Regions from separate parts of the Homo sapiens genome. Here region 2 is linked to region 1. The links come from fine-mapping of genetic effects on gene expression. A gene starts in region 1. The other region holds a variant in brackets. All regions are shown on one strand. Distances are between the middles of the regions. Region 1 holds the start of STARD7 (StAR related lipid transfer domain containing 7). Region 2 overlaps STARD7-AS1 (STARD7 antisense RNA 1).

The links.
Region 2: its variant is fine-mapped to the expression of STARD7 in regulatory T cells (Schmiedel 2018, PIP 0.95).

Annotation. Positions count from the first base shown.
Region 1 is chr2:96,207,084-96,209,992 of GRCh38, reverse strand. It overlaps STARD7 (StAR related lipid transfer domain containing 7), which reads left to right and starts at 1,166. Exons shown (of 8, transcript NM_020151.4): 1 at 1,166-1,848. The coding sequence starts at 1,559. It overlaps STARD7-AS1 (STARD7 antisense RNA 1), which reads right to left and starts at 1,577. Exons shown (of 4, transcript NR_046322.1): 1 at 1,014-1,577. RefSeq lists silencers at 920-1,139, 1,490-1,749 and an enhancer at 882-1,472.
Region 2 is chr2:96,229,227-96,232,135 of GRCh38, reverse strand. All of the region lies in intron 1 of STARD7-AS1 (STARD7 antisense RNA 1), which reads right to left. Among named protein-coding and RNA genes, the nearest start is that of SNORA112, 16 kb to the right of the region's middle. The variant A/CA (reference allele first, on the strand shown) is at 1,306.

The sequences.
Region 1 (2,909 bases):
GGCCGCTTAGGCTGGCCTCTGGATCTGTCACCAGAGGTGGGGCTACCGAACCATGGACAGGTAGCCACAAGGGGTATCCCAGACGAACCCCCAAATTTGTAACCGTACAATGGGTTCACCTTGCCCACTGCCTAGACAGAGCCGATTTATCAAGACAGGGGAACTGCAATAAAGAGTAATTCACGCAGAGCCCACTATGAGACTGGAGTTTGTTTCAACATTACTCAATCAGTCTCCCTTAGCATTCCGGGATCAGAGTGTTTAAGGATAATTTGGTGGGTGGGGGAAGGCCAGTGAGTCCAGAGTGTTGACTGGTTGGGTCGAGATGAAATAATAGGGAATTGAAGCTGTCCTCTTGCACTGAGTTGGTTCCTGGGTGGGGGCCACAAGGTCAGATGAGCCAGTTTATCCATCTGGGTGGTGCCAGGATCCAACCAGTGCGGGGTCAGCAAAATATCTCAAGCACTGATCTTAAGAGCAGTTTAGGGGGATCACAATATCGTAGCCTCCAGCTGCATGACTCCTAAACCATAATTTCCAATCTTATGGCTAACTTATTAGTCCTACAAAGGCAGTCTAGTTCCCAGATAAGAAGATTTGTTTTGGGAAAGGGCTGTTATCCTCTTTATTTTAAACTATAAACTAAGTTCCTCCCAAAATTAGTTCACCTAAGCTCAGGAATGAACAAGGACAGAAGCAAGATGGAATTGGTTAGGTCAGATCTCTTTCACTGTCTCAGTTTTAATTCTGCAATGGCGGTTATCACTGGGAGCCCCCAGCCCCCGCAGAGACATGCGGAGCCCCGCCCCCACCCTGCACTCTAATAAAGAAGGGGGCCAGCGTGCCGGCCTCTTAAAACAAGTTAACACCTGGCAGGATTCTAACAGGAACCTGGCCAGGTTTCTCCGCGGGGCGGGGCTGGGACGGCCGGAAGATGGCGGCGACGGCGGCAGCCGGGTCCGAGGGTCACTCTCCAATGCGCCCTTGACGGCTCTCGCCGCCGAGCCACCTACCTTGCTAGCAGGCGGCCTCCGCGCATGCATGAAGGGGCAGGAGGGGGCGGTGACGAGCACTTCACGGCGCCAATGAGCACCCAGGAGCCCAGGTCGCGCCCAATCACGGCCCAGGTGGCGGAGAAAAAGTAGGGTGCGCGCGCGCCGCGCGTGTGGCAGTCGCGGAAGGCGCGGGAGCTTGCGTGCTGCTGGGCCTGAGCTGTCTGTCTCGTTTCTGTCCGCGCGCCCTGCATCCCGGCCCCGGGCGCCCGCTGGAGGTCGCCGAGGAGCCACAGGGCTGACTGGTCTGCTGCCCGGGCCCAGGAGTGCCTGGTGTAGCAGTCGCGGAGCCATCCCGGCGTCTGCTGCCATGACCGACTCTCCCCTCAGAGGAGACTCTTCCTCAGCGGTGGCTGCAGAGACAGATGAGCGGCGGCTCCTGGCCGCGGGACCGTGAGACGGGTTCGTGGCCGGCCATTTAGGGGGACGCTGCGACCACCGCCTGCGCCCCTCCGGACTGGTTCCTTGGGCCCCGGAAGCTCGCGGCGGGCCCTGCGGGAGGCGGCATGCTCCCGCGGAGGCTGCTGGCCGCCTGGCTGGCGGGGACGCGGGGCGGGGGCCTGCTGGCGCTTCTGGCCAATCAGTGCCGCTTCGTCACGGGCCTGCGCGTGCGGCGCGCGCAGCAGATCGCGCAGCTCTACGGCCGCCTCTACTCCGAGAGCTCACGCCGCGTTCTCCTCGGCCGCCTCTGGCGCCGGCTGCACGGCCGTCCTGGCCATGCCTCTGCCTTGATGGCGGCGTTAGCCGGCGTCTTCGTTTGGGACGAGGAGAGGATCCAGGAGGAGGAGTTGCAGAGGTGGGCGCTGCGGCGAGCTCTTTCTGGGCCGTGGGGTGGGGGGGCTTGTGAACCCTGGGGCCTGCCCTGTGGTCGTTGGCCCTTGTTTACCCGGTGGTCTTTTAATTGGCAATACAGTCGATTGAACCTGCTTCAGCAAACCGCGTTGTTATTTGTCTCTGTGTGTCAATTTGCATTTGTCGGGTTATAAAATAGAACTGAAAGTGTGTAGGCTGGTGTGTAGGAGGGAGACTTTGAGTGGGGCGAGCAAGACAGTAAAGAAACAACACTGTAGAAATCAATTAGATAGCGAAGGCATGGAGGCCCTTGTTCATGTAATCTGTAATCTTTAACACAACCAGAAAGGTGCAAATTCAAAACAAATTTTAAATTTGGCCTAAGGGTGGTGGGCTGCTATTTGCAAAATGACTTCAATCCAGATGGGACTCAGGCCTGTGAGAAAAGCCAGGAGAGCCCTCTGTCATCGTGACTCGTGGCAAAATTGAGAGCCTGGAAGCGATTTTGTCCAGGTTACACAAACCAGCAGCCCAGACATTTGAACCTGTAAGAATTAGGTCAGATTTTTGCGACGTTAACTAGAACTTTGGGAATAGTGTCCCATTAGACTCTGAAGTCATGCTGTCGTCATCAAAACTGTGAAAAGCCCAGTACCATTGATTACGTTTGTTAATCTGTAGTTCTGAGACTGTAGTTTCCAGGTAATGTCATGGGGAAACTTTGCTTTGGTTTTTGGTTTACCTTGTGTCTGTATTTTCTTTGCAACAGATATTCTTAAACTGTGCCCTCCCTGCACAGAAAGTACTTTGCCGTGATTTCGGGAACCAGAGACAATCCCCTCCCTCCGCAGATTCCACACTCGCCTGTTTATTCTTGATATTTCCTCCACAGGGAAACAACCTGTTATTCCACATTTTTTGTTAGGTTAAAAATGGAAATACCCCAATAAAGTTTATACCATGGCCTGTGTGGGAGGTGTAACACCCAGATGCCAGGCAGCTATTTGTGCCACACTATGAATTGTGGGTAAATGCAAGTCTATCTTAAGAACTGGGAATACTTTT
Region 2 (2,909 bases), 22 kb before region 1:
TAGGTTAGGTGTATTCAGGGCATTTGCAACTCAGGATATTTTCTTTTCTTTTTCTGAGATAGGGTCTCACTTTGTCTCACCAGGCTGGACTGCAGTGGTGCAAGCATGGCTCTCTGCACCCTCGATCTCCTGGGCTCAAGCCATTCTCCCACCTCAGCCTCCCACGTAGCTGGGACTACAGGCGTGTGCCTCCATGCCTGGCTAACTTAAAAAATTTTTTTTTTTGTAGAGACAATGTCTTGCTATGTTGCCCAGACTGGTTTCACACTTCTGGGCTTAAGTGATCCTCCAGCTTTGGCCTCCCAAAGGGTGGGGATTACAGGCATGAGCCATTGCACCTGGCGAAATTTTTATAATTGTATGTTGTCTCAGCATCTGTTTTAAATACAGGTTAGCCTTTCTCATATAAAAAGCAGGACTCAGTCACCCTTGACACATTGTCCAGTTCTCCACCTCCTCCTAGCTCCTCAGTGTGATCAATCTAGATACCTGCCTTATACAACCACCTCCTGATGACCACTTCCCTGTGGACACCTAGATACTACATATGTGACTTGCTCCAACCCCCTCGCCCCACATGGACTGCCCAGACATGCTGCAGTGACCACCTCTGAGTCACAGCATGACCCCATGATACTTGTGCCTGCTTGCTCTAAACTTACCAGTTAGAACTCCTATCGGATGCAGTGGCTCACGCCTGTAATCCCAACACTGTGAGTGGCCAAGGTGGGAGGACTGCTTGAGACAAGGAGTTTGAGACAGCCTGGGCAACATAGCGAGACCTTGTCTCTACCAAAAATAATTTAAAAATTAGCTAGGCATGGTGGCGCACTCCTGTGATCCCAGATATTTAGGAGGCTGAGGTGGGAGGACTGCTTGAGCCTGAGAGGTAGAGGGTGCAGTGAGCTGTGATAGCGCCAGTGCACTCCAGCCTGGGCAACAGAATGAGACCATTTCAAAAAACCAAAAACCCGCTGGGCATGGCAGCTCATGCCTGTAATCCCAGCACTTTGGGAGGCCGAGGCAGGAGGATCACCTGAGGTCAGGAGTTTGAGACCAGCCTGGGGAACATGGCAAAACCATGTCTCTACTAAAAATACACAAATTAGCCAGGTGTGGTGGTGGGCACCTGTAATCCCAGCTACTCGGGAGGCAGAGGCATGAGAATCACTTGACCCTGCAAGGCGGAGGTTGCAGTGAGCCAAGATTGCACCACTGCCTTCCAGCCTAGGTGACAGGGTGAGACTCTGTCTCAAAAAAAAAACAACAACAAAAAAAACAAAACCAAAAACCAACCCCCCCCCC[A/CA]CCAAAAACAAACAAACAAACAAAAAAAACAAAAACTCCTCTCAGGAAACCTGCTTGGGTAATGGCCTGGACCCAATACAGACATTAGCCCTCAGGCCCCTTGCTTTCTCTCTCATTCCCTGCTCCCCAGCTAAGCACGTGTGTCCTGGCCAGCTCTCTCCCCACTGGCCCTGAGAGGCGTGCTGCCCTCTTCTCTGTAAGAGCTCTGTAAGCAATACACTGCTTCTGTTACTTCATGTGTTTTGCTGTGTTGCCTCCTCTGCAACTCACCTGACCATCATACCTGAACCCAACTCTCATTCCATAGAGGGTTCTCCTACAGAGTGGCTATCTTGGTAGGAATAAACTGGACACAAGTCAGACAAGAGCCACACAGGTGTCTGCCAGTATCAACAAGTTTCCTGTGAGACGGACACCTGGTCATGGGTCTGACACTTAGGAATTAGGCCATCTGCCAGATAATGAAGTATCCTGTCAATGGCGCACTGCAAACATCCATGGCCAGCTCTCCTGGGGCCCTGGAGTCAGGACAGGGCTAGAGTTTACAGCCACTCTCCAGAAAGAGGCCTCAAGATGAAATCAGAAGAAACACAATACTATCTTCTGCAGGTAACTATTCTCCTTTTGAGATACAGCTTCGAGCATGTCACTTGGCCCTAGTGGACACTAAAGCCCTTGGCTGTGGGCCACCAAATTATCAAGTGTCCTGAGCTAAGCCTAAATATCATTATTTATTAATGATAAATTAAATTGGGTATTATATGACTCATCAAGCCAGAAAGTTGCACTCCATCTACTTAATGATGGAGTCATTATGAAATGGAAATGGTATAAATGAGATTGGGTCTGAGCAGGTCCTAAATGCAGAAGCAAGTTCTCTGAGTAACTACTCCTGCTACATTGCCTATTCTCTCTCAACCCACATCTATGGCCTCATGGGAAATCACCTATCACCAGTTGACCAAGGAGGTAAAAATTAAAAAAAAAAATTCAAGTCTGGCTGGGCACGGTGGCTTACATTTTATAATCTCAGCACTTTGGGAGGCCCAGCCGGAAGGACTGCTTGAGCCCAGTAGTTCGAGAACAGCCTGAGCAACATGGTAAGATCCCACCTATACAAAATAATAATAATAATAATAATAATAATAATAGCCGGGTGCAGTGGCATGCACCTGTGATCCCAGCTACTTGGGAGGCTGAAGCAGGAGGACCACTGGGGCCTAGGAGGTTGAGGCTGAAGTGCAGTGGTGATCGTGCCACTGCACTTCAGCCTGGGCGACAGTGAGACCCTGCCTAAGGAAAAAAAAAAAAAATTCAAGTCTGGTTCCTTGTTACAGATGTTTCTGCATCACATATTGTTATAACCCCACTCAAGGTGGTCCTGAGAACAGTGGTCAAAGGAAATCTTCCGAGTGGGCAAAACTTTGATTGGTGCATGTGGTTGCTCATTTTACCTAGAAGGAGAGATGGTCAGAGTTGTAGCTCTACATTAGAGAAACATGATTGGAAAAGGGTAAAAGTTTGAATGCTTTGTCATTAAAACTGGGAACAAGTGAAGGGTGTCTACTCTCACTACTTCTATCCAACATTGTATTGAAGGTTCT